Linked DNA regions of Homo sapiens. The protein of the gene in region 6 interacts with the protein of the main gene of each other region in a pairwise test. Each region holds a gene or a part of one and is shown on either strand. Other genes may lie near its edges. The genes, in order: ZCCHC12, CISD2, SLC30A8, CREB3L3, RETREG3, RUSF1 and SCN3B.

The links.
Region 1: the proteins of RUSF1 (region 6) and ZCCHC12 interact in binary tests that used the Homo sapiens proteins (3 or more experiments, as listed by UniProt).
Region 2: the proteins of RUSF1 (region 6) and CISD2 interact in binary tests that used the Homo sapiens proteins (3 or more experiments, as listed by UniProt).
Region 3: the proteins of RUSF1 (region 6) and SLC30A8 interact in binary tests that used the Homo sapiens proteins (3 or more experiments, as listed by UniProt).
Region 4: the proteins of RUSF1 (region 6) and CREB3L3 interact in binary tests that used the Homo sapiens proteins (3 or more experiments, as listed by UniProt).
Region 5: the proteins of RUSF1 (region 6) and RETREG3 interact in binary tests that used the Homo sapiens proteins (3 or more experiments, as listed by UniProt).
Region 7: the proteins of RUSF1 (region 6) and SCN3B interact in binary tests that used the Homo sapiens proteins (3 or more experiments, as listed by UniProt).

Annotation. Positions count from the first base shown.
Region 1 is NC_000023.11:118,822,423-118,826,623, forward strand, and holds the start of ZCCHC12 (zinc finger CCHC domain-containing protein 12), read left to right. Parts: upstream 1-1,401; 5' UTR 1,402-1,583; intron 1,584-1,916; 5' UTR 1,917-1,968; intron 1,969-2,166; 5' UTR 2,167-2,291; intron 2,292-2,708; 5' UTR 2,709-2,822; coding exon 2,823-4,031; 3' UTR 4,032-4,201. UniProt on the Homo sapiens protein: Transcriptional coactivator in the bone morphogenetic protein (BMP)-signaling pathway. It positively modulates BMP signaling by interacting with SMAD1 and associating with CBP in the transcription complex.
Region 2 is NC_000004.12:102,882,492-102,885,991, forward strand, and holds part of CISD2 (CDGSH iron-sulfur domain-containing protein 2), read left to right. Parts: intron 1-2,557; exon of another isoform or gene 2,558-2,724; coding exon 2,725-2,939; intron 2,940-3,500. UniProt on the Homo sapiens protein: Regulator of autophagy that contributes to antagonize BECN1-mediated cellular autophagy at the endoplasmic reticulum.
Region 3 is NC_000008.11:117,172,995-117,177,214, forward strand, and holds the end of SLC30A8 (proton-coupled zinc antiporter SLC30A8), read left to right. Parts: 3' UTR 1-3,720; downstream 3,721-4,220. UniProt on the Homo sapiens protein: Proton-coupled zinc ion antiporter mediating the entry of zinc into the lumen of pancreatic beta cell secretory granules, thereby regulating insulin secretion.
Region 4 is NC_000019.10:4,156,631-4,160,130, forward strand, and holds part of CREB3L3 (cyclic AMP-responsive element-binding protein 3-like protein 3), read left to right. Parts: intron 1-364; coding exon 365-665; intron 666-3,033; coding exon 3,034-3,152; intron 3,153-3,500. UniProt on the Homo sapiens protein: Transcription factor that may act during endoplasmic reticulum stress by activating unfolded protein response target genes. Activated in response to cAMP stimulation. In vitro, binds to the cAMP response element (CRE) and box-B element.
Region 5 is NC_000017.11:42,588,875-42,592,374, reverse strand, and holds part of RETREG3 (reticulophagy regulator 3), read left to right. Parts: intron 1-212; coding exon 213-319; intron 320-3,500. UniProt on the Homo sapiens protein: Endoplasmic reticulum (ER)-anchored autophagy regulator which exists in an inactive state under basal conditions but is activated following cellular stress.
Region 6 is NC_000016.10:31,494,892-31,498,391, forward strand, and holds part of RUSF1 (RUS family member 1), read right to left. Parts: intron 2,060-3,500; coding exon 1,958-2,059; intron 1-1,957.
Region 7 is NC_000011.10:123,641,125-123,644,624, reverse strand, and holds part of SCN3B (sodium channel regulatory subunit beta-3 precursor), read left to right. Parts: intron 1-1,953; coding exon 1,954-2,179; intron 2,180-3,150; exon of another isoform or gene 3,151-3,500. UniProt on the Homo sapiens protein: Regulatory subunit of multiple voltage-gated sodium (Nav) channels directly mediating the depolarization of excitable membranes.

The DNA.
Region 1 (4,201 bases), on a different chromosome or scaffold from region 6:
TCCTCTGCTTATGGCCACATCACTAATCTCTGGTCATTGCCTTCTCTTCTTGGTGCACCAACTCTCCCTCTTTTATAAGGGCACTTGTGGTTTAGATTTCAGCCTGCCTGGAAAATTAAGTCAAAAAGCCTTAACTTAATCACACCTGCAAAGACCATTTTACTTTATAAGGTAACATTTACAGGTTTCAGGGATTAGGACTTGATACATTTGGGTGGCCATTATTTAGCTTCATACAGAGTCCGAAATCTTTGCATACAATTTCAGGAAGATCATGGATTCCAGGTAGGCACATCTGCTCTGGAGTTGCATTTCACCACAGATACCTGTGGACAGATATTGGAGACAGGCTCATTTACTTATTCACAAACCTTGCTACAACTCAGAACCAACCGCAGCGCCGGTTAAAAATACTAAATACAAAACCACATCACAACCGCTAGTCCTAGTAAATCTGAATCCACCAGAGTTGGGGCCCAGAGCCTACATTTCTTTTCTTTTCCTTTTTTTTTTTTTTTTTTTTTTTTTTTTTTTTTTTTTGAGAGGGAGTCTTGTTCCCTTGCCAGGCTGAAGTGCAGCGGTGCGATCTTGGTTCACTGCAACCTCCGCCTCCCAGGTTGGAGAGATTCTCTAGCCTCAGCCTCCCAAGTAGCTGGGATTACAGGCACGCGCCATCATGCCCAGCTGATTTTTTTTTTTTTTTTTGTCTTTTTAGTAGAGACGGGGTTTCAACATGTTGGCCAGGATGGTCTCGATCTCTTGACCTCGTGAGCCGCCCGCCTCGGCCTCCCAAAGTGCTGGGATTTCAGGCGTGAGCCACCATTCCCGGCCAGAAGACTGCATTTCTAACAAGCTCCCCCAAATGACTCTGATGTCTTGCCCCCATACTTGAATGGGTATTGGTTGAGAGCCTTGTTCTCCAGCTCTCCTCTCTGTTAAATGGACATACTGCTACTTCTTTCACAGTAAAAGAGGAGATGTGTGTGAAAGCCTGTTTCCGCAATGCACGTGCTAATGCTCTTCCCGCCCCTTCCCCTCTTCCCCGTCTTTTCCCTATACCAAGGTGAAGAACTTTTATTATTCACTTGATTTTGGACCCACTTCGTGTTTAATGCACCTGGCCTAAGATGCAGAGTTGAGCCCAGGGAGAAGGGACGGGTTGGGGGAGGAAGAAAGAGTCGCAAATTCCCAGGCAGATTGGCTCCATCGGTCTAATCAAGCTGCACTTGACGCTCCGCGGGCCTGCTGCGCCCCCGCCCCCTCAGGCGAAAACTCGCCTCTGCCCAAGGCTGTGCGGGGCGTCCGCCCCCGCACTTCGCTGATTGGCCGCACTAGCCCGCTCGTCACGCTCTTTTGTCTCAGCTGGCAGAGGATAAAAGCCGCCGCGGCTGCCTTAGGAACGGCGCTGCCTCGTCTCTGCTACCCCTGGTTGGGCGGCCCTGCGAAGCAGCTCCTTCGGGCAGCCCCGGGTCGCTTAGCGGCCAAGGAGGCTTCAGTTCTTTGCCGCCTGCAAGGCGGAGACCAGAAGGCGGAATCCACAGCTGGCGACGCGGGAGCATCTGCTGTCCACCAGCGGAGCACAGGTAAAGAATGGGGGTGTGATTGCCCGGCGGGGAGAGGGGTGGGGGAAGACCCACCAGTACTGGGCGGCTCCCAGCTTGGAGAATCGGTGACTGTGAGGCAGGGGTAGGAGTACTCTCGTGGCCCGGCTGCGCTGAGGGAGGAGGTGGGGTTCACCTGGATACTGCGGGCTAGGTAGGATTTGCCTGGATTTGGGGGTGGGAGGAGAGGCGAGGAGTAGCGGGGGGAGGAATCTCGAGCTGTTTGCTTCGAACATCCTTTGCATCTCCTCATCTCTTTCTGGGAGGAATATGTGGGTGGGTGTGTCCAACTCCTATTCCCTTTCTCCGTGGCAGGCCATCAAAGCCGCATCTGAACTTGAATTCTGTGCAGCTGATTGCAGAGCTGGTAGGCCGACGGCTTCCCGGGGGAAATGTAATGCTGGAGGGTGGGGGGCTGGTCTCTGGCTTATAGTCAGGAGGGGGCAGAGAGAATTTTTCGCCTGGCAACAGCGGAGGTGGTGGGTAGCAGGATGACGGGTGAAGCTGCTTCTAACCCTTCCCTTCTCTGGCCTTCTCCGCTGTGGCGCAATCTTGAAACCTCAAGGACCCGGATCTGCGACCCCCTGTGGACAGAGGTTGACCGTACCCCGGAGAGGAGCTTTCTCACGGAGGGCACTGGTTGCAGAGGCTGGAAGTGAAATAAAGACGCGCTCTTGTTTCAGAGTTCGTGTAAGAATCTGAGAAATAACAAGGGGGACGGGCGTGGGGGGCACTTTGAGAAGGGGGTGTGGTTGAGACCAGAGACCATGAGGTTAATGAGATCTTATTTTATTTCCACAAATCTGCGATCATTGTACTCTATTTGGAGAGCCCAATATCAGCTCCAGACACTGCTACACCTAGAATTTGAAGCAACAGTTACCGTCCCTCTTGGAGGACTGGTGGGAGGGATGGATGTGGCTGCAAAAAGCACCTTGCTAGCACGCAGGCATCGGGTAGCTCTGGGAGGTTGTAAGTGTCAATCTCCTACAGGATTATTTTTAGGGTAGTGGGCAAATATAAAATGTACTGCAGGATATTCAGGTAGGAAGAGAATGCAGCTGCAGCCCGCTCCCTTATTAACCAGCCCCCCTTTCTTTTTTACAGCCCCTGCTGAGATAGGAAGGCAGAGCCACCTCCTCTCCTCTCCCACCTGCAGATTAAGCTTTTCTAAAAAGCCTAGGCATCTTCTTATATTCAGATACCCTATCGTCGTCAGTCATGGCTAGCATCATTGCACGTGTCGGTAACAGCCGGCGGCTGAATGCACCCTTGCCGCCTTGGGCCCATTCCATGCTGAGGTCCCTGGGGAGAAGTCTCGGTCCTATAATGGCCAGCATGGCAGACAGAAACATGAAGTTGTTCTCGGGGAGGGTGGTGCCAGCCCAAGGGGAAGAAACCTTTGAAAACTGGCTGACCCAAGTCAATGGCGTCCTGCCAGATTGGAATATGTCTGAGGAGGAAAAGCTCAAGCGCTTGATGAAAACCCTTAGGGGCCCTGCCCGCGAGGTCATGCGTGTGCTTCAGGCGACCAACCCTAACCTAAGTGTGGCAGATTTCTTGCGAGCCATGAAATTGGTGTTTGGGGAGTCTGAAAGCAGTGTGACTGCCCATGGTAAATTTTTTAACACCCTACAAGCTCAAGGGGAGAAAGCCTCCCTTTATGTGATCCGTTTAGAGGTGCAGCTCCAGAACGCTATTCAGGCAGGCATTATAGCTGAGAAAGATGCAAACCGGACTCGCTTGCAGCAGCTCCTTTTAGGCGGTGAGCTGAGTAGGGACCTCCGACTCAGACTTAAGGATTTTCTCAGGATGTATGCAAATGAGCAGGAGCGGCTTCCCAACTTTCTGGAGTTAATCAGAATGGTAAGGGAGGAAGAGGATTGGGATGATGCTTTTATTAAACGGAAGCGTCCAAAAAGGTCTGAGTCAATGGTGGAGAGGGCAGTCAGCCCTGTGGCATTTCAGGGCTCCCCACCGATAGTGATCGGCAGTGCTGACTGCAATGTGATAGAGATAGATGATACCCTCGACGACTCCGATGAGGATGTGATCCTGGTGGAGTCTCAGGACCCTCCACTTCCATCCTGGGGTGCCCCTCCCCTCAGAGACAGGGCCAGACCTCAGGATGAAGTGCTGGTCATTGATTCCCCCCACAATTCCAGGGCTCAGTTTCCTTCCACCAGTGGTGGTTCTGGCTATAAGAATAACGGTCCTGGGGAGATGCGTAGAGCCAGGAAGCGAAAACACACAATCCGCTGTTCGTATTGTGGTGAGGAAGGCCACTCAAAAGAAACCTGTGACAACGAGAGTGACAAGGCCCAGGTTTTTGAGAATTTGATCATCACTCTCCAGGAGCTGACCCATACTGAGATGGAGAGGTCAAGAGTGGCCCCTGGCGAATACAATGACTTCTCTGAGCCACTGTAAGGGACCACCCCCAGGTTTCAGTGAACCCTTACCTATATTCAGCATCCAGTAGTGGGAAAACTGGGGTGGGGGTGGGGGTGGGACTTCTAACTGCATGAATTAATCCACAAAGCGGCTATCTTTTGGGGTGGAGTAGAAAGGGTCTTGGATACCAGCACATTGGAGGGAGA
Region 2 (3,500 bases), on a different chromosome or scaffold from region 6:
GAAGTTGAAGCTGGAAAGGTAGCCTTGCCATTCTTTGGAGATGGCACCTTATAGAGCCAATGATCTATAGTAGCATTGTCCAGTAAAACTTTGTGGTAATGGAAATGTTCTCTGTACTGTTCAATATGGTAGTCAGTAGTCACATGTAGCTAGCTATTGAGCCTCTGAAAGGTTACCAGTGTGTCTTAGAAACAGCATTTTACATTTTACTTAATTTTAATTTATTTACATGTGAATAGCCACATGTGTTTGTTTTGTTTTGTTTTGTTTTTGAGACAGAGTCTTGCTCTTGTCACCCAGGCTGGAGTGCAATGGCATGATCTCGGCTCACTGCAACCCCTGCCTCCTGAATTCAAGCGATTCTCCTGCCTCAGCCTCCCAGGTAGCTGGAATTACAGGCGCCTGCCACCACGCCTGGATAATTTTTTGTATTTTTATTAGAGACGGGGTTTCGCCATGTTGGCCAGGCTGGTCTTGAACTCCTAACCTCGTGATCTGCCCTCCTCAGCCTCCCAAAGTGTTGGGATTATAGGCATGAGCCACCACGCCCACATGTGTATATTAACCGTGTTTTCAATTTTCTGTATTTTATTATGCTTTAATATCTTAGGAGCCTTGTTGGCTGTGGAGACAATTTAATTCCTAGAGATACTAAATAACTTGCCTGTGAGCATGCCTTTCATATGCAAACCAACCAATCCAAAGCCCATGCCCCCAACCACCTCCTTTATCTAACCCTTACACATGAAGTCAGTATTTCTCCAGTCAATATTTCTCCTGCCCTAAGTCACCCCAGGGACAGGTAGGAGACGACTAGGGACCACTACTTTTGCCCAGAACCCACTGAAATTATTCAAGCTAGCCAGTCCTGAACAGTTTCCTGCCTTGCCTTTTCCATGGAAACCACAGTAAAGGCCTGTGCCCATGCTTTTTCCCTTTCCTCTTTCTTCCTCCTGATCAACCCTAGTACCTCTCATGTGGCCCTGCATTGCATAGTGTATCCTCTCCTCTTGGGAACTATAAGTAATAAACTGTTATTTCAAGACAGTTTCTACAAGTCTGTTGGGTACAAATCTAAACAGTATGGCTAGTGGTGCCCATATTGAATAGCACAGATCTTATACCTAGGCCTCCTTCTCCCCGCAAAAACAGTTCTGTGTTATCTCCAGAGCTTTAATTCACTCAAAGAACCTATTTGGAGTGTCTCCACTTTGGTTATGAGAATGTAACAGCCAGCATGGCAGACAAAGTTCATACTTTTACAGAGTTTTATTCTGGTAACTACAAGATTATATTCCTGAAGATTTTTGCCCATATAGCATTGTCAAGTTATTTGGCAAAATATTTTTTTCAAAGGAGTTGCTAGTACTTCCTCACCAATCTCTATAATCTCTGAATAAAAGCTACCATTTATTGTGTCTTTTTTGCCAGCCACTCTTATAGGTGCTATCTATGAAAATGGTAGATAAATAGGTTTTTTCATTTAGATTTCTTTGGCATGATGTTATATCAAAAATAATTCCATTTTGGAAGAGTTCATATTGTCTTTCTTTCAATAGTTAAATAGTACTATTATCTCCTGAGAGTAGTTTTACCAAGATAGGCACAGATTTTAATTTTAGATCTATTGGGTTTGATTCATGATAACTGACAACAGGCTTTGGATTTAGGGTGTCCTGGACTAAACCTGCTTAGGCTACAGTTTTCTCACATGTAAAATGGGGATAATAATGATACCTACCACATATAGTTGTTTAAGCTAACATAGTGTTAAATGAGCTAGTGCCCTTATACTCTTAGCATAACCTGTTCATTTATCTTTAATGTTTATTAGCATGAGTTAGCATATTATTTTCTGTTTTTCTCTTTTCTCAACTAAGCTATTTCCACATAGTGCCTAGCAAGGTATCAGATTCGGCATTCAGTGAAGGAAGTTAACTGGTAATTCTATAAGAACAGAAAAGAGCCCAGCAGAGGCAGGGTGCTAGCAGACATTTGATAAATGTATGTTGAAATGTTTATCTTGGTTTCCTGGTATTTTTGTGTCCACATGCATAGGGACTGTTTCATTTGTATCACTTATATTCCCTGTCCCCTTAAGACAGGCTAGGTACTCCAAAAGGCTTTAAATGAAGTTTATGGAATTAGATATATCTTAAAATGAGAACATTCAACATAGAAGGTTTCAATTTGTTCTTTAAAATAGTAGCTTTTACACAAAATTTCAGTGTTCTTTAGCAACATTTACCAAAAATGTACCTTAAAGCATCAGAGGACATGTTCTCTCTGATATTATGAATCAGTGGTAAAAATTCTGCAGATATTCTGTTGTATGATTTTGACATAGTATTAAGGAGATAAAATGTTTTCTTAACTTATAAAATATACATTGAATTTTGTTTATAGTTATAGTGATCATAACTCCTAAAATAAAAATAGACAAACACAAATAGACTTGATGTAGACAATGAGATAGGATATTTGAAATGGAACCTATTTCTGAAAAGTTAGGTTTCTAGTTTCACTGGTCTCAAATTATAAATAAAGTAAGGTGGTCTTTGGTAGAGCTGGCTTTATTGTGTTATTTATTCACAGTTTTATGGATCCATTAAAAAGGAATTAATGTAAAAAGTAACAAAGAATAAGCTCAAGGATGAAACTAGACATGCTATTTTGAATTCTTTTCCAAGAGCACTGCAGATTCTGACACATCTACATGTTTAGTTTCAGAATGGCTTCGGTTATTGCCTTTCCTTGGTGTACTCGCACTTCTTGGCTACCTTGCAGTTCGTCCATTCCTCCCGAAGAAGAAACAACAGAAGGATAGCTTGATTAATCTTAAAATACAAAAGGAAAATCCGAAAGTAGTGAATGAAATAAACATTGAAGATTTGTGTCTTACTAAAGCAGCTTATTGTAGGTGTTGGCGTTCTAAAACGGTAAGATGTCTGTTTACGTGTACACTAAAATTTTGCAGTGCTAGGATTGTTTCGCCTCTTAAATCCCCAGTTTTGAAGTTCTTTAAGATGAGAGAATTTTCTGTAATATTTGGTATTGAAAGACCATATTCCTAAATTGAAGTTTTCATGTCATGATAGATACTACCTACATTAGAAAAGTTGGAGCAGCAAAGAAGAATAAAAATCTAATGCCTTCGCAATGTTTGGCATTTATGTAGAGTAACATGTATTTTAAAATACACATTCTTTGAGAGAGGACCTAAGGTTTAATGGAAAAAAGCTTTGGTGTCATAGTAAATAGTGGTCAAATATACTTGTCACAGTATGAGTTTGGTTGGACAAGTTACTTAATTTTTAATCTCTAATCTTCAGGGTTTGTTTTAACCTGATACATCCACATTACATATCTTTGAGAAGTGAGATGATATATGTAAACTGCTTTAATAATATGAGGTAGTAAATGATAGCCTCAATTATAGATGATTTTTAATGTGGGAAGGAGTTTGGAGTGATAAGTACTATAAGTAGTTGACAAAATCT
Region 3 (4,220 bases), on a different chromosome or scaffold from region 6:
GCATCTTGAGAACACATAGGTAAATTTGAACTCAGGAAAGTCTTACTAGAAATCAGTGGAAGGGACAAATAGTCACAAAATTTTACCAAAACATTAGAAACAAAAAATAAGGAGAGCCAAGTCAGGAATAAAAGTGACTCTGTATGCTAACGCCACATTAGAACTTGGTTCTCTCACCAAGCTGTAATGTGATTTTTTTTTCTACTCTGAATTGGAAATATGTATGAATATACAGAGAAGTGCTTACAACTAATTTTTATTTACTTGTCACATTTTGGCAATAAATCCCTCTTATTTCTAAATTCTAACTTGTTTATTTCAAAACTTTATATAATCACTGTTCAAAAGGAAATATTTTCACCTACCAGAGTGCTTAAACACTGGCACCAGCCAAAGAATGTGGTTGTAGAGACCCAGAAGTCTTCAAGAACAGCCGACAAAAACATTCGAGTTGACCCCACCAAGTTGTTGCCACAGATAATTTAGATATTTACCTGCAAGAAGGAATAAAGCAGATGCAACCAATTCATTCAGTCCACGAGCATGATGTGAGCACTGCTTTGTGCTAGACATTGGGCTTAGCATTGAAACTATAAAGAGGAATCAGACGCAGCAAGTGCTTCTGTGTTCTGGTAGCAACTCAACACTATCTGTGGAGAGTAAACTGAAGATGTGCAGGCCAACATTCTGGAAATCCTATGTCAATGGGTTTGGTTTGGAACCTGGACTTCTGCATTTTTAAAAGTTACCCAGAGATGCTTCTAAAGATGAGCCATAGTCTAGAAGATTGTCAACCACAGGAGTTCATTGAGTGGGACAGCTAGACACATACATTGGCAGCTACAATAGTATCATGAATTGCAATGATGTAGTGGGGTATAAAAGGAAAGCGATGGATATTGCCGGATGGGCATGGCCAGTGATGTTTCACGTCATTGAGGTGACAGCTCTGCTGGACTTTGAATTACATATGGAGGCTCTCCAGGAAGACGAAGAAGAGAAGGACATTCTAGGCAAAAAGAAGACTAGGCACAAGGCACACTTATGTTTGTCTGTTAGCTTTTAGTTGAAAAAGCAAAATACATGATGCAAAGAAACCTCTCCACGCTGTGATTTTTAAAACTACATACTTTTTGCAACTTTATGGTTATGAGTATTGTAGAGAACAGGAGATAGGTCTTAGATGATTTTTATGTTGTTGTCAGACTCTAGCAAGGTACTAGAAACCTAGCAGGCATTAATAATTGTTGAGGCAATGACTCTGAGGCTATATCTGGGCCTTGTCATTATTTATCATTTATATTTGTATTTTTTTCTGAAATTTGAGGGCCAAGAAAACATTGACTTTGACTGAGGAGGTCACATCTGTGCCATCTCTGCAAATCAATCAGCACCACTGAAATAACTACTTAGCATTCTGCTGAGCTTTCCCTGCTCAGTAGAGACAAATATACTCATCCCCCACCTCAGTGAGCTTGTTTAGGCAACCAGGATTAGAGCTGCTCAGGTTCCCAACGTCTCCTGCCACATCGGGTTCTCAAAATGGAAAGAATGGTTTATGCCAAATCACTTTTCCTGTCTGAAGGACCACTGAATGGTTTTGTTTTTCCATATTTTGCATAGGACGCCCTAAAGACTAGGTGACTTGGCAAACACACAAGTGTTAGTATAATTCTTTGCTTCTGCTTCTTTTTGAAAATCATGTTTAGATTTGATTTTAAGTCAGAAATTCACTGAATGTCAGGTAATCATTATGGAGGGAGATTTGTGTGTCAACCAAAGTAATTGTCCCATGGCCCCAGGGTATTTCTGTTGTTTCCCTGAAATTCTGCTTTTTTAGTCAGCTAGATTGAAAACTCTGAACAGTAGATGTTTATATGGCAAAATGCAAGACAATCTACAAGGGAGATTTTAAGGATTTTGAGATGAAAAAACAGATGCTACTCAGGGGCTTTATGAACCATCCATCAATTCTGAAGTTCTGACTCTCCCATTACCCTTTCCCTGGTGTGGTCAGAACTCCAGGTCACTGGAAGTTAGTGGAATCATGTAGTTGAATTCTTTACTTCAAGACATTGTATTCTCTCCAGCTATCAAAACATTAATGATCTTTTATGTCTTTTTTTTGTTATTGTTATACTTTAAGTTCTGGGGTACATGTGCGGAACATGTAGGTTTGTTACATAGGTATACATGTGCCATGGTGGTTTGCTGCACTCATCAACCTGTCATCTACATTCTTTTATGTCTGTCTTTCAAAGCAACACTCTGTTCTTCTGAGTAGTGAAATCAGGTCAACTTTACCACCAGCCTCCATTTTTAATATGCTTCACCATCATCCAGCACCTACTTAAGATTTATCTAGGGCTCTGTGGTGATGTTAGGACCCATAAAAGAAATTTATGCCTTCCATATGTTTGGTTACAGATGGGAAATGGGAATGTTGAAGGACATGAAAGAAAGGATGTTTACACATTAAGCATCAGTTCTGAAGCTAGATTGTCTGAGTTTGAATCTTAGCTCTTCCCTTTATTAGCTCTGTGACCTCGAGCTAGTTACTTAAATGCTCTGATCCTCTATTTCCTGATCAGTGAAACCTCCCTATTCAAATGTGTGAGAGTTTAATAAATTAGGACACTTAAAAATGTTGGAGCAGTGCATAGCATGTAGTGTTCAGTACATGTTAAATGTTGTTTTTTATTATGTACAAACATGAGTGGGCACAGAATTTTAAATCATCTCAACTTTTGAGAAATTTTGAGTTATCAACACCGTTCCCACAAGACAGTGGCAAAATTATTGGTGAGAATTAAACAGCTGTTTCTCAGAGGAAGCAATGGAGGCTTGCTGGGATAAAGGCATTTACTGAGAGGCTGTTACCTAGTGAGAGTGATGAATTAATTAAAATAGTCGAATCCCTTTCTGACTGTCTCTGAAAGCTTCCGCTTTTATCTTTGAAGAGCAGAATTGTCACTCCAAGGACATTTATTAATAAAAAGAACAACTGTCCAGTGCAATGAAGGCAAAGTCATAGGTCTCCCAAGTCTTACCCCATTCCTGTGAAATATCAAGTTCTTGGCTTTTCTCTGTCATGTAGCCTCAACTTTCTCTGACCGGGTGCATTTCTTTCTCTGGTTTCTAAATTGCCAGTGGCAAATTTGGATCACTTACTTAATATCTGTTAAATTTTGTGACCCAACAAAGTCTTTTAGCACTGTGGTGTCAAAAAGAAAAACACCTCCCAGGCATATACATTTTATAGATTCCTGGAGAATGTTGCTCTCCAGCTCCATCCCCACCCAATGAAATATGATCCAGAGAGTCTTGCAAAGAGACAAGCCTCATTTTCCACAATTAGCTCTAAAGTGCCTCCAGGAAATGATTTTCTCAGCTCATCTCTCTGTATTCCCTGTTTTGGATCACAGGGCAATCTGTTTAAATGACTAATTACAGAAATCATTAAAGGCACCAAGCAAATGTCATCTCTGAATACACACATCCCAAGCTTTACAAATCCTGCCTGGCTTGACAGTGATGAGGCCACTTAACAGTCCAGCGCAGGCGGATGTTAAAAAAAATAAAAAGGTGACCATCTGCGGTTTAGTTTTTTAACTTTCTGATTTCACACTTAACGTCTGTCATTCTGTTACTGGGCACCTGTTTAAATTCTATTTTAAAATGTTAATGTGTGTTGTTTAAAATAAAATCAAGAAAGAGAGAGTTTGGGTTAAGTCATCATCTTTTTATCACCAAAATCATGGCAGGACATGTTTTTCATGACACCAGTGAGGACTGTAATGAGAATACACTCTTTCACTCTCAGTCATTTATTGGAAGAGATATAACTCATTTGGGGAACATACTTGTCTAAGAGAGATGGAAGATAATGTGTTAGAATCAGGGGTGCTTTTGAAATCATTCTGGTCATGGGCATAAAACCCCAGTGGAGGAAGAAGATGGTGGTCAGAGGTGGTAGGAGCCCTTGACGGTTGTAAAAAAGGAACTTGTGCTTCTTCAACCATAAAGCCAGGAAGTGATGAGAGATGTCAAGCTGAATTGCACCCCTTTCAGAAGTGTCAATCAAGTCCTGGAGACAATGTATCATTATAATTGCCCTATATTTCCTTTCTTCAAAGGGGTACCCATTTGTTAAAAACACGATTATCCTATTTACAGCCATTAAAACCCTATGGTTGTTATACACAGTCCAATAGTACTAT
Region 4 (3,500 bases), on a different chromosome or scaffold from region 6:
AGCTGGGACTACAGATGCCCGCCACCACGCCCAGCTACTTTTTGTATTTTTAGAAGAAATGGGGTTTCATCATGTTGGCCAGGCGGATCTCGAACTCCTGACCTCAAGTGATTCGCCCTCCTCGGCCTCCCAAAGTGCTGGGATTACAGGCAGGAGCCACTGCACCTGGCACTGGCTGGGATTTTTATGCTATGTTACTGCGTTTGAGCCTCAGCAGCCCCGGGAGGAAGAAGCAGTAACTCATCTTGGAGAAGGGAAGGACACCTAAGGCCCAAAGAGGGTCACTGGTTTCCCTGGGGCCACACACTAATCTAAAAAGAGTGAGCACTTCCTAATTCCTACTACCCCTCCCTGTCCACCCCAGCAGGTCCTGCCAAACCCCGACTCTGACGACTTCCTCAGCTCCATCCTGGGCTCTGGAGACTCACTGCCCAGCTCCCCACTCTGGTCCCCCGAAGGCAGTGATAGTGGCATCTCCGAAGACCTCCCCTCCGACCCCCAGGACACCCCTCCACGCAGCGGACCAGCCACCTCCCCCGCCGGCTGCCATCCTGCCCAGCCTGGCAAGGGGCCCTGCCTCTCCTATCATCCTGGCAACTCTTGCTCCACCACAACCCCAGGGCCAGTGATCCAAGTACCTGAAGCCTCTGTGACCATAGACCTGGGTGAGTCCTGCTGTGTCTCTGCCCACCGCCCTCACCTTGTTCCAGGGCCCTTCCTGTAAGTGAGGAAATGGAGGCCCAGAGAGGGCTGGCATCTTGTCCAAGGTCACACAGCAATTTGGAGCTGGGCCCAGACTCAAACTCAGGACACGTGTCTCCCTTGGCTAGGTGTTTCCATGCTTTCACGTGGATGCTATTGGGAGCCCATTTTCCAGATCGTGAAACAGTCCTGTCAGGTTGAGCAATGAGCTAAAACCACAGAGCTAGGATGCAACCCCGGCAGGTGGCTCAGGCACCAGGCATGGTGCTGACAAGCACAGCCCAAAGTCAGGGTCTTGCCTTCTACGTGTCTGTACCCCGTGCCTGGTTCCTAGTAGATTTTTTTTTATTTTTTATTTATTTTTATTTTTTGAGACAGAGTTTCACTCTGTCACCCAGGCTGGAGTAAAGTGGCGCGATCTCGGCTCACTGCAACCTCTGCCTTCCAGGTTCAAGCAATTCACCTGCCTCAGCCTCCTGAGTAGCTGGGATCACAAGCATATGCCACCATGCCCAGCTAATATTTATTTTTTAGTAGAGACGAGGTTTCACCATGTTGGCCAGGCTGGTCTTGAACTCCTGAGCTCAGGTGATCTGCCCACCTCAGCCTCCCAAAGTGCTGAGATTACAGGTGTGAGCCGCTCCACCCAGCCTGTAGATGCTCAATAAAAGTGCATGAGGTTACCAGGTCCTAGGTTCCAGGGTGCTCCTCCTAGACGTGGGGAACAGCAGATCAGTAATGATTTACTCTATTGATTAAGCATTCCCGGCGGGCCAGGCAGAGCCCTGGCTGGAGATACTTGGCCTCTGGGTGGCCTTTGTCCCTTGACCCTTGCTATGAGCTCTTCTTGGTCCCATTGGAGAGTTGACAAAACTGAGGCTCAGGCCCGGAGCGGTGACTCATGCCTGTAATCCCAGCACTTTGGGAGGCTGAGGCAGGCGGATCACTTGAGGTTAGGACTTCAAGACCAGCCTGGCCAACATGGTGAAACCCCATCTCTACTAAAAATACAAAATTAGCCGGGCATGGTGGGGGCCACCTGTAGTCCCAGCTACTCAGGAGCCTGAGGCAGGAGAATCACCTGAACCCGGGAGGCGGAGGTTGCAGTGAGCTGAGATCATGCCACTGCACTCCATCCTGGCTGACAGAGCCAGACTCTGTCTCGAAAAAAAGCCAAAAACAAAAAATGCTGGGCACAGTGGTTCACGCCTGTAATCCCAGCACTTTGGGAGGCCGAAGCGAGCGGATCACGAGGTCAAGAGATCGAGACCATCCTGGCCAACATGGTGAAACCTCTGTCTCTACTAAAAATACAAAAATTAGCTGGGTGTGGTGGCAGGCGCCTGTAGTCTCAGCTACTCGGGAGGCTAAGGCAGGAGAATCTCTTGAACCTGGGAGGTGGAGGTTGCGGTGAGCCAAGATTGCCACACTGCTCTCCAGCCTGGCGACAGAGCGAGACTCCGTCTCAAAAAAAAAAAAAAAAAAAAATCTGAGGCTCAGAGAGGTGAAGTCACTTACTCAAGGTCACACAGCCCTGCCCAACCAGGATTAGAACCAAGGGTTACCTGACCCAAAGTTTGTGTGCTGGGACAGCATGCCTACTGCATGCCGGCTACCAGGAGGGGACAACCAGAGGTGAATCAGACCTCGTCCCTGCCCCTTGGGTGAGATAACGCCTGGCTGGCTGCAAATCTAGCCTGTAATTCTGTGTGATAACAGCCACTCCCTTTTGAATCAGCCGGTGTCTCCTGACAATGTCCTGTGTCTTCCTCAGCCTTGTGGGACGGACAGAACCAAGCCCTGTTGAATTTGGGTCCCCATCTTTTTTTTTTTTTTGAGATGGAGTCTCGCTGTGTCACCCAGGCTGGAGGGCAGTGCCACATTCTCAGCTCACTGTAACGTCCACCACCCGGGTTCAAGTGATTCTCCTGCCTCAGCCTCCCGAGCAGCTGGGATTACAGGTGCACGCCACCAGGCCCGGCTAATTTTTGTATTTTTAATAGAGATGGGATTTCACCATGTTGGCCAGGCTGGTCTTGAACTCCTAACCTCAGATGATCCGCCTGCCTTGGCCTCCCAAAGTGCTGGGAATACAGGCGTGAGCCACCATGACTGGCTGGGTTCCCATCTTATAGCAGAGGGGAGACCGAGTCACTAGTGAGGGCTGCCCCCTTCAACTCAGGCCTTGGGGACTCCAAACTCTGGCAGAAGTCATATGAATGTTGGGATTAATCATGGGAGACTTGGTGGAGGAGGCGGTTAGAGGCTGGAAGCTCAGGACTCCCCCCGTCTGACACTCTCCCTGTCTCCGTCCCCACCTGCCCTGGTCAGAAATGTGGAGCCCAGGAGGAAGGATCTGTGCTGAGAAGCCGGCTGATCCGGTGGACCTGTCCCCACGATGCAATCTCACCGTGAAAGACCTCCTCCTTTCGGGCAGCAGTGGGGACCTGGTGAGCACCCCCACACCCTCCCATGGGGCGTTGGAGCTGGGAGGGCTGCTCGGGTTCGAGGAGCCTAAATATCCCCGTTTCAGAGACTGGAAAACTGAGTCACAGAAAGGCGTGGAATTTGCCCACAGTTAGAGACCATTCCAGTCCTGGGCTCACTGTCGCCTGGGCTGGGGTGTCTTCCTCTGTAGTACTTAGTAGTAACAATAGCAACAACAACTAAAAGCTAAAACTGGCTGAGTGTGGTGGTTCACACCTGTAATCCCAGCACTTTGGGAGGCCAAGGCAGGCAGATCGCTTGAGCTCAGGAGTTTGAGACCAGCCTGGGCAACATGGTGAAACCCCATCTAT
Region 5 (3,500 bases), on a different chromosome or scaffold from region 6:
GCAGCAAATTATTTTCTCTGCCCCATAGGTAGAGTAGTTAAGGTCCAGAAGGTTTAAATGATTTACCCTAGGTGTATAACTAGTTAAGTGTCAGAACAAAAAAAGCTAGACCTCAAGTCTGTTTACCACAGAGCCCATCGTACACACGTGGCCTTTTCTGAAATTAGGATAACTAGGTAAATGATCTTTCTTCTGTTTTTCTTCCTCTGTAGGTTTTTTGCCCTGACATCTCTTCGTCTTGTGTTTTTACTTGCATTTGGCTTGATGATCATTGTGTGTATTGATCAATGGAAGAACAAAATCTGGCCTGAAATAAAAGGTGAGTTTGGTAGCATTTAGAACAATCTGAACTGAAGATGGCCTTTCCTATAATTTGTACCTTTAGTATTAGGGGTTTATGAGGAGGTGTATGGAGCTGGGGACTGTCTTTTGAAGTCTGAATCATTTGCTTTAGGAGGCACTTGAAGGGCTTGTGCCCCAATTATGGTTCCTTAGAGCTGGGTTCTGCCCTTCCCATTGTTACTAAGCACAGGAAATCTGTACTCACCACCTGAGTTATTTTTGCCAACATAATGGCCTGAGGAATAAGTAGTCCTCAAATGAAAAATAATAAATTATCGTTATTGGACACTGCATCTTTATTGAGGCAGTACCTCTCAGGAATTCCTTTTACATTGCTCATTTGCAAAACACTAGGCTAGGCAATTGTGACTTATAGAAAGTACCATGATGGCCGGGCGCAGTGGCTAACGCCTATTAGTAACCCCTGCACTTTGGGAGTCCGAGGCGGGTGGATCACCTGAGGTCAGGAGTTCGAGCCCAGCCTGGCCAACATGATGAAACCCCGTCTAATAAAAATACAAAAAATTAGCTGGGCATGGTGATGCATACCTGTAATCTCAGCCACTAAGGAGGCTGAGGCAGGAGAATCACTTGAACCTGGGAGGCGGAGGTTGCAGTGAGCCGAGATCGTGCCACTGCACTCCAGCCTCGGTGACAAGAGCAAAACTCAGTCTCAAAAAAAAAAAAAAAGAAAGTACCATGACATGTGGTGTCTTTTTAAAAAGCTAATACATACATAAACAAATGAAAAATTAAGTGACAATTATAGACCAGCACCACAGATGTCACAGTGCAGTATGTGATTAGTATACTTAGCATGTATTTTTTCCCTAGCCTGAGAGTGGAACAAAGCAAAAGATTTGAACAGATTGAGAAAAAAGTCTGTTTCTAGAGAGTCCAGTGGCTTGATTAGTCTGAGGAACCAGAAGTTGCAAAGCATTTCCTGACATCAGAGAATTGATCATATGGCCAGGATGAAGGTTCATTAAAGGGAGTGCTAGGAAATAAAACTGAAAGTATGTTGGGATTAGGTTTTTTGTTGGTTTCTTTTCTTTTCTTTTCTTTTGAGACGGAGTCTCACTCTGTTGGCCAGGCTGGACTGCAGTGGCATGATCTTGGCTCACTGCAACCTCCGCCTCCCAGGTTCAAGTGATCCTCCTGCTTCAGCCCTGCTAGTAGCTGGGATTACAGGCACGCACCACCATGCCTGGCTAATTTTTGTATTTTTGTTAGAGACGGGGTTTTACCATGTTGGCCAGGCTGGTCTCGAACTTCTGACCTCAGGTGATCCACCCGCCTAGGCCTCCCAAAGTGCTGGGATTACAGGCGTGAGGCACCGCACCTGGCGCATTCTTTTTTTTCAGACAGAGTCTTGGTCTGTCACCCAGGCTGGAGTGCAGTGGCGCAATCATGGCTCACTGTGGCCTCAACCTTCCGGGCTCCAGCAATTCTCCCACCTTAGCCACCTGAGCAGCTGGGACTATAGGCACTTGCCACCATGTCCAGCTAATTTTTGTATTTTTTCTATAGATGGGGTTTCTCCATGTTGGTCAGGCTGGTCTTGAACTCCCAACCTCAGATGATCTGCCCGCCTCAGCCTTCCAAAGTACTGGGATTACAGACGTGAGTCACCGCGCCCAGCCCTATTCTTATTTTTTAACAAACTAGGTCTCACTGTGTTGTCCAGGTTTTGGAGTACAGTGGCATGATCATAGCTCACTGCAACCTCAAATCCCTGGGCTTAAGTGATCCTCCCACCTCAGTCTCCCAATTAGCTGGGACTACAGGTGCATACCACCACACCCAGCTAAGTAAAAAAAATTTTTTTTGAGACAGAATCTCACTTTGTTGCTCAGGCTGGAGTGCAGTGGCGCGATCTTGGCTCGCTGCAACCTCCACCTCCCAGGTTCAGATGATTCTCCTGCCTCAGTCTCCTGAGTAGCTGGGACGACAGGCGTGCACCACTACGCCCAGCTAATTTTTTTGGTATTTTTAGTAGAAATGGGGTTTCGCCATGTTGGCCAGGCTGGTCTTGAACTCCTGACCTCAAGTGATCCGCGTGCCTTGGCCTTCCAAAGTGCTGGGATTACCTGCGTGGGCCACCACGCCCAGCCGATAATAAAGATTAATTTAGTAGCATTTTTAGGACCACATGGAAGGAGGAAAAGTGGAACAGGATGACCTGTTAGGAGACTGTGGCAGTGTCTTTGTGAGAAGTAGTCAGAGAGGCCTCAGTGAATACAAATGATGGATGGCCTGGAGAGCTGTGAATAAGGAAGATCAAGACATAAATAGTTGGGGCCAGGTGCAGTGGATCATGCCTGTGATCTCAGCACTTTGGGAGGCCAAGGCAGGAGAATTGCTTGAGCCAAGGAATTTGAGACCGGCCTGGACAACGTGGCGAAACCTTGTCTCTACAAAAAATAAAAAAATTACCCAGGCATGGTGGTGTGCACCTGTGGTCCCCAGCTACTTGGGAGGCTGAAGTGGGAAGATCCCTTGAGCCCTGGAGGTTGAGGCTGCAGTGAGCCGTGATCGCACCACTGTACTCCAGCCAAGACAACAGGGCGACACCTGTCTCAGAAAATAATAATTGTTATATATGTATAATAAAAGACATAAGTGGATGGGGGTTAAAGCTAAGAGAGTGGCAGAATGGCATTACACTTAGCAGGCAAAGGCAGACAGGAAAGTTGGTTTGAAGGGGTGAGAGAGGAAAACTGATGTAGATTTTAGGCAGGTTAATTTTGAAGTGTTGGCAAGATATTCAAACCAGAGTATACAGGTTTTAAATACATGCCCATCATATTTTATAGAGACTTCAAGGAATCGTGTAGTTCATCTGCCTATCTAATGGCTGGTGAATCTCAAAAGACTTATACATCATTCAGGTAGATAATGGGTCTCCCCATTTTTTTTTTTTTTTGGTTAGAGACAGGGTCTCACTGTGTTTCCCAGGATGGACTTGAACTCCTGGGCTCAAGTGATCCTCCTGCCTCAGCCCCCCAAGGAGGCAGAACTATAAGTGAGCATCACTACACCTAGCTCTGGGTCTCTTTTTAAAGAGAACAGGCAGGCTGGGTGTGGTGGCTCACACCTGTAATTCCAGCACTTTAGGGAGGCTATGGTGGGTGGATCACCTGAAGTCAGGAGTTCAA
Region 6 (3,500 bases):
TCTTGAACTCCTGGGCTCAAGCAATCCCCACCTCAGCTTCCCAAAGTGCTGGGATAACAGGCATGAGCTGGAATAACTTTTATTTACTGATTTTAAAAAGTTGACTGCTCCCCTCCCACCAAGCTCCTTTGGTATGCAGTAACTGGCAGATAGATTTGCAAAGGGGTCAAGGAACCACCCGGGAAGAAAAGGAACAAGACCCACACCTCTTCCCTTGTGTATCAATGTTAGGAGAACACTCTGATGGCTGGATTGAGATCACTCTAGGGGAAGGGACCCCAGGCTACCTGCCCCCAACTCATCATGAGGGAGGAGTCTGGATTGGTGCCCCTGACTACTGGGCTCCCAGGGAGAGCTGGTCCTGGCATAGAGAGGACCCGAGACTGGAGAGCTCTTCTCAACCAGCCCTCCTGGGAAGGGCATATGCTGTGGGAATAAACGCTGTGGGTGTGGCAGGAAACTGGGGATCAGGGACCTGGGGAGTTCAGGAGCTCCTCTCTCCCAGGTGGGAAGAGTCATTTCCAGTGGCCACATCCAGTGACAGCAAAGCTGCACTGGCAGAAAGCTGGAGTCTGCTGCGGGACTGACACATTCCCAGGTTAGTCCCGGATATGTCCCTGGCTCTGTGGACCGAGGAAGCCCTGGGGTCTTGGGAAAAATGGCTTGGGGTTAGGGGGAGGTCTGGGGACCAGCGAGAGAACAGGAGAGGGACACCAGGCATGGAGCTGGGAGTCCTGCGGTGAGGGACCTGTGCTGTGCTTCCTGCTTGCTCCTTAACAGCCTGTGGACTTAGGTTCAGAAGAGACAATGGGTGGAATAAGCCCGAGCATCCTGAGAGAAGGGACTTCCCCAGGGGCCCCCAGGGAGATGGGACCTCTCCATGCTTTATTTCTTCATCTGTACTAAGGCAACCATGAGCATTTACTGCACATGCCCACTGTGAGAATTTAAAGAGTTCCCAGAACCAAAATACTTGGCACATGGTTAGTGCTTAATAAATATTAGCTTGGGTTAAGATTATTGAGCCAAACAATGGAAGAGAAGGCCAGAAAGTAGGAATGCACAGAACAGCAGTTTCTAAATTGCTTCAGTGTCAAAGAAAACCATCTCACACTTCTGGGACTTCCCTGGGCCTTAATTTCCTCATCTGTAAACTAGGGATAAAGTAGTACCTACCTCAAAGGGTTGGTGTGAGAGTTTGTTTGTTTTTGAGACAGGGTCTTGCTCTGTCACCTGGGCTGGAGTGCAGTGGGGTGATCTTAGCTCACCACAGCCTCCACCTCCTGAGCTCGAGGCTGGGACTACAGGTGTGCACCACCACACCTAGCTGAAGTTTCTTTTATATATTATGTAGAGATGGGGTCTCGCCGGGTTGCCCAGGCTGGTTTCAAACTCCTGGCCTCAAGTGATCCTCCCACCTCAGCCTCCCAAAGTGCTAGGATGACAGGCGTGAGAGTTAAGTGATGCAGTACACGTAAGCACTCAGCACGGGGTTTGTAGAGGTCTAATCCATGCGGAGTTCAGCCTTAGGGGTGTCCCTACCCCAACTCCAGGCTCCCTAGGGTGGGCAAGGGGGCTGGGCCAGCAGGCCTGCTAAACTGCTGAGTGGAGGCCCCAGCCAGTGACCCAGCAACCCCACATGCTGGGTAACTCTGACTTGCCAATTGCCTTGACATGTGGGGCCTCATGTGATCAGAACATCCAGCTTGCACGGTGGGGTCTGAAGAGGGCAAGGCTGAGGGCTTGCTCTCAGCCACACAGGTGGCGGGCAGGGCCTGAGATCAGCTCGGACTTGCCGCCACCAGAGCCCAAACCCCTACTCCTGCCTGGGTGTCTTGAGTCAGCAGGGAGCACCCATACTTCTTCCTGTGTGTTCCTGGGCCCTCCAGGGCACTCAAGTGGCTTCTCTCCCCTTCCCCTCCCCACTCCACGCCCTCCCTCCAGCTCTGGCACTCACCTGGCTGCTGTCCTTGGCTGACACGTCAGCCATGTTGTTCCTCCGAGCCTGGTGCACGGTCAGGGCAGCCCGAGTGGCCCCACCAGCAACACTCACGATGCACTGGGTGGGAGGGGAAGAGAGAAGGTTGGCAGAGACACGTGTCCTGGTAACACAGGCACTCAGACCAGCTGGAGAAAACCTGGCCCCGGCCAAACTCTGAATGCTGTCCTTGGCATCTAGTTCTCACCTTGATGCCCCCTAGGCTCAACTTCCCTGTCCTGTTCTAGGAAACTGGAGTCCCACCTGCCACTATCACCTTGGGGACTGGCCTCACAGAAGCTCAATTTCATTCCCCAAGGTGGAGGCCCAAAGATCATTCTCAGCCCAGAACTCCCAGCCCTCCAGCTCCTGCTTGGGCTATACCCTCCCCATTACTGGCGGGAGGCTCAGGCTGGTTTCCAGCTTCATGCTTACATCTGCCTCCTGTAATTCCTCTACTCTCCTCCTGCCCCAGTTAAAGCTGTCGAAACCTACACTGATGGCCCTGACCTCCCAGGGTACCCAGATCTCTCCCTCTGAGATCGCAGGATAAAGCTAATCAAGGAGGGTCACTGGTCACTCACAATCATCCCGAGTTCATCAAAGCTCTTTTACTTATTACTATTTTTATTTATCCTTAGTTTTTGAATACAGACAGAGTCTCCCTGTGTTGCCCAGGCGGGCCTGGAACTCCTGGGCTCAAGAGATCTTCCCACGCCAACCTCCCAAAGTGCTGGGATTACAGGCGTGAGCCACCGCCCCTGGCTGAGGGCTCTTTTAGATGCCAGACATAGACTTAGGTGCTGTGATACAAGTCAGACCCAGGCCCTGCCCTCATGGAGCATACAGATCAACAGATAATAAACAAATAAACAAGTTAATACGCAGGCAGAGGAAACAGTCTGTTCAAAGGCCAGAGGAACGAGGGACAAAGTGAGGGCGAAGTGGCTGGCAGGGACCTGACCACACGGAGCCTGGCAAGCCTGGTGAAGGTCTTTCCCTAAGAGCAATGGAGCAGCAGAGTGACCTGATTGCTTTCCTCTTTGAAAGGATCACTGGGCTGCTCTGAGAGAGGAGCGGCACGGAGGCTACCTGGGAAGCAACGGTGCTCTCTCAGCAGTGAGAGGTGGTGACAGGAAGATGGAGGAGAGAATGGACTGGAGATTTTGAGGAGGGAAAAATAACAGAACTGAAGGTTCAGCCGAAGGTGACAGATAAGGGGAAGGGGGAAGAGGAGGAGGTGGTGGCAGTGGTGGTGGCGGCAGCATAGATGACAGCCAGGCTGGCTTCTCTTGGTGCAGCTGGAGATGGAGGTTGTGGAGAGGGGAACTCTAGAGAGGGGTCTTAAGAGGGAAGCTCATGGCCCTGTTCCATTCCCTTGTTGGACAGATGAAGAGACTGAAGTCTCAAAGGCAGAGTTTGAAGCAAAAGCCAGATGGCACAACCCTCGGTCCATAGCTACAGCCATGCTTTTCTCTGGGGTTTCCTACCCTGTTTAGGGGTGCTCGTAGCATTTAGGCTT
Region 7 (3,500 bases), on a different chromosome or scaffold from region 6:
AATTTTGGTATTTTTAGTAGAGACAGAGTTTTGCCATGTTGGCCAGGCTGGTCTCAAACTCCTGACCTCAGGTGATCCACCCACCTCGGCCTCCCAAAGTGCTGGGATTCCAGGTGTGAGCCACCGTGCCTGGTCGGCTGTCATATATTTTGAATACCACCTTGGAGATGACCATTATTTACTCCTTCACTGACTGTGGAGCCAGGCCACCTGGGTTTGATTCTTGACTTCACACTTATTATCACCTCTGTGTCCTTGGACATGTTGGTCATCCTTTCTGTGCCTCGGTTTCCTCATTTTTAAAGTGGGGATATAAAGCATAGCCAAATTATAGGGCTGTTACCAGGACTCATGAGCTATAATTTTTAATGCATTAAAAATAGTTTCTGGAATATAGTAAGCACTGGTAAATGTTTGCTAGAGAAAAGATAGACACAGAAATGAGGAAACTGAGGCTCAAAGAAGTTAAGTTAATAACTAAGACAGCTTTGACTTGAGCCAGGTGGTCTAACAGCAGATACAAGGCCCTTTTTACGGCACTGCTTTGCCTTCCTGGGGGCAAGTTTCTCCTCCACAAAGATTTGTAACAGAGACAATGGAAGGGCGAAACTGGGTTTAGCTTGCTCTTCTTTCTCACTATCCTAAAGCCGAACCCATTTCTAACTCTAGCTTCTATGTGCCATTCTGATGCAGATTTGCAACCGTCTGGTACTAAGACTGGGACCAGCGGAGACTTCCCAGAGCCTGGCTCAGGTGTGACAGTGACACGTCAATGAAGCTGCAACTGAGGCTAGCCCCCAGCTGCAGGAGGCTGGATGTCTTGGCCAGATGCAAAGGCCCCCAGGGCCTTCAGGCCTGGTCATGTACCAGTGATAGCTGCCCACATTGCTTCCAGGCCTGCCCAAAGTGAGGAAAAGGTGGATCAGAAGAAGAAGAAAATGAAAAATAAAACGGCAACAGCAAAACATCCATGGAAATCCACAGCAAGGCTGTCTCATAGAAATGTTTGTGATGGTGGAAACCTTCTCTATCTGTGCTGTGCGATACAGTGGCCACCAGCCACATGTGGCTATGAATAATTGAAATGTGGCCAGTGCCACTGAGGAACTGAATTTTACATTGTATTTAACTTCTAAGAAATTGAATTTAAGTAGCTACATGTGGCTAGTGGAGACTAGAATAGCCAGCACAGCTGTAGAGAGAGAATGGCACATAGAAGCTAGAGTCAGAAATGAGTTTGGCTGTTATGTCAGAGGGTGGAAGTGTTGAGGAAAGAAATTTAAAAGATGATATTTTAGTTAAAATTCAGTCCAAAGCAAAAGATGTGACGTGTGCCTCTCTGGTGATGGCTCTCTGCTCATCTGCCATGCTTCAGCATCCTGGGCCTCCTTCCTGTGGCCTGGCCCAGACTGTCCTACAGCCCCTGATGAGTACCAGCACAGAGAGTCCAGTTTTAAAGCCAGGGCTTTCATATGTCTTCATTACTAATGAATCTGCCTGTCTTGCTGTCTCTACCTTGTTCTCTTGCCAGCGGCTCTGGGACACATCTTACTCTCTTGTTCTCTCTATCTTTTTACAATCCTGTCTTTCTCTCAATGTCCGTCTCCTGGGCTCCCATACTCTTCTCCCGCCTGCCTTTGTTCTCCCTCTTTCCACCCCTTTTTTTCTGCCAAGCTTCTTCCTACACGCCCGTGGCTGCCTCTGTCCTCACCACGTCCACATGCCCTGATGCCTGCTGCCTCTGCCTGTCCTTCCCTGTCTTTGCTCCCTTCCCTACCCTCCTCTGTGCCTCTTCATCCCACCCCCACATTCTGGGTCTCCCGGTGGCATTGTCCCCTCTCTTCCCTGTCCATGCACAATTCTGCTCCTTTTCTCTGCCCTGTCCCTAACTCGGCTTCCCCCCACTGCCATCTCCTTTCCTGGCCCTACCCTCTTCTGCTCCTCTATCTGCAGATTTACGAGTATCGGAATGGCCACCAGGAGGTGGAGAGCCCCTTTCAGGGGCGCCTGCAGTGGAATGGCAGCAAGGACCTGCAGGACGTGTCCATCACTGTGCTCAACGTCACTCTGAACGACTCTGGCCTCTACACCTGCAATGTGTCCCGGGAGTTTGAGTTTGAGGCGCATCGGCCCTTTGTGAAGACGACGCGGCTGATCCCCCTAAGAGTCACCGAGGAGGGTGAGGCTGAGGCACAGGGTCTCTAGGGCGTCCTGCTCTCTGTGGACAGGGAAGGGTAGGACAGCAGTTTTCCACGAGTGAGGCCCTTAAAGAGTGCAAAAACCCATGTATTTGGAATGGTGACATCTAAAAATGTCACCATTGACCCATCTTCTTCTGGTGGCCAGCTTCCTGTAAATTCCCTAAGCAGCTTGTCTTTCTGTGCCTTTCCTCAAAGCAGAAAGGCTTGGAGATGATAGAATGAGCTCTTCCTGGTCCCTTAGAGAAAGAGGCTAGCCTCCATGAGGCCTAAAGCTACTGATTCAGCTAGGCCTTCTTCTTTGGCCTATGTTGAATCCCTGACTCAGTGGGCTCAGAGAAATCTCATGAGGTTACCCGGAAGTCATCTCTCCTTCTACCTGTAAGCAATACATGCCTCTAAGCCAGGGGTTCTCAAACTTTAGCAAACCTCAAAATCTCCTGCAGGGCTTTTTGGAAGCCAGCCTTTCTGCTTTTGTCGGTGGAGCCTGAGAGTTTGCACTGCGTGACACACTGCCTGGCGGGCAGTGCTGCTGCTGGGACCACACCTTGAGAACCTCTCTCTAAACCAAAGTTTGACAATCTTTTTTTCTTTTGTCTTTCTTCACAGTAATCACACGTGCAACCTCTTCCCCATCTGTGGCATCTCTTATTACATAAATTCATTCCCTGCTGGGAGAAGGGGACAGGTTGATAGCTCTCTAGTCTTGTTTAAAATCTTTGGACTCCTACAGCTAGTTCCGTGTTCGTGAGTGGGAAGGCCTTTCAGCAGCCTAACTCAGGTGTTTCTGTTGCAACCGGAGTCCTGCATCCTGAGGGGGGAGTTCCAGCCTTTCTCAGTCTATCTCCAGCATTATCACTGCTAGTGAGCAGGCCAAAGTGTGGGGCATGAAGGAAAAGATCAAGTTAAAGACAGGGCTCTTCCTAGAAAAAAGGATCCAGGAATCCCAACCTCCAGGCCACAGGTTTATTCATTTTTTATCATGTCGTTGTGATAAAAATAATGAAGCGGAGATTCAGTCCTCAGAGTGAATGAACAAAGGAGAAAGAGACATAACGGATCAGACGATATGACTAAAATGGAAGGTAGGTCAATTCTGAAAGTGCAGAGGGACTCTCAGGGCTCCTGAATCCAGACCTGATGAGTCACTTCCCTGCTCGGAGCCCCGCTCCTCTGGTGTGAAATGAAGGGGTTGGCGGGGGGCTCTCTGAGGTACTCCCCTGTTCTGAAGTTCCTTTATCCCCCGTTTGTTACACGCCTTTCCTCTGGGGGGTGGGGCCCTGGCGCCCTCTCCTGGTCACC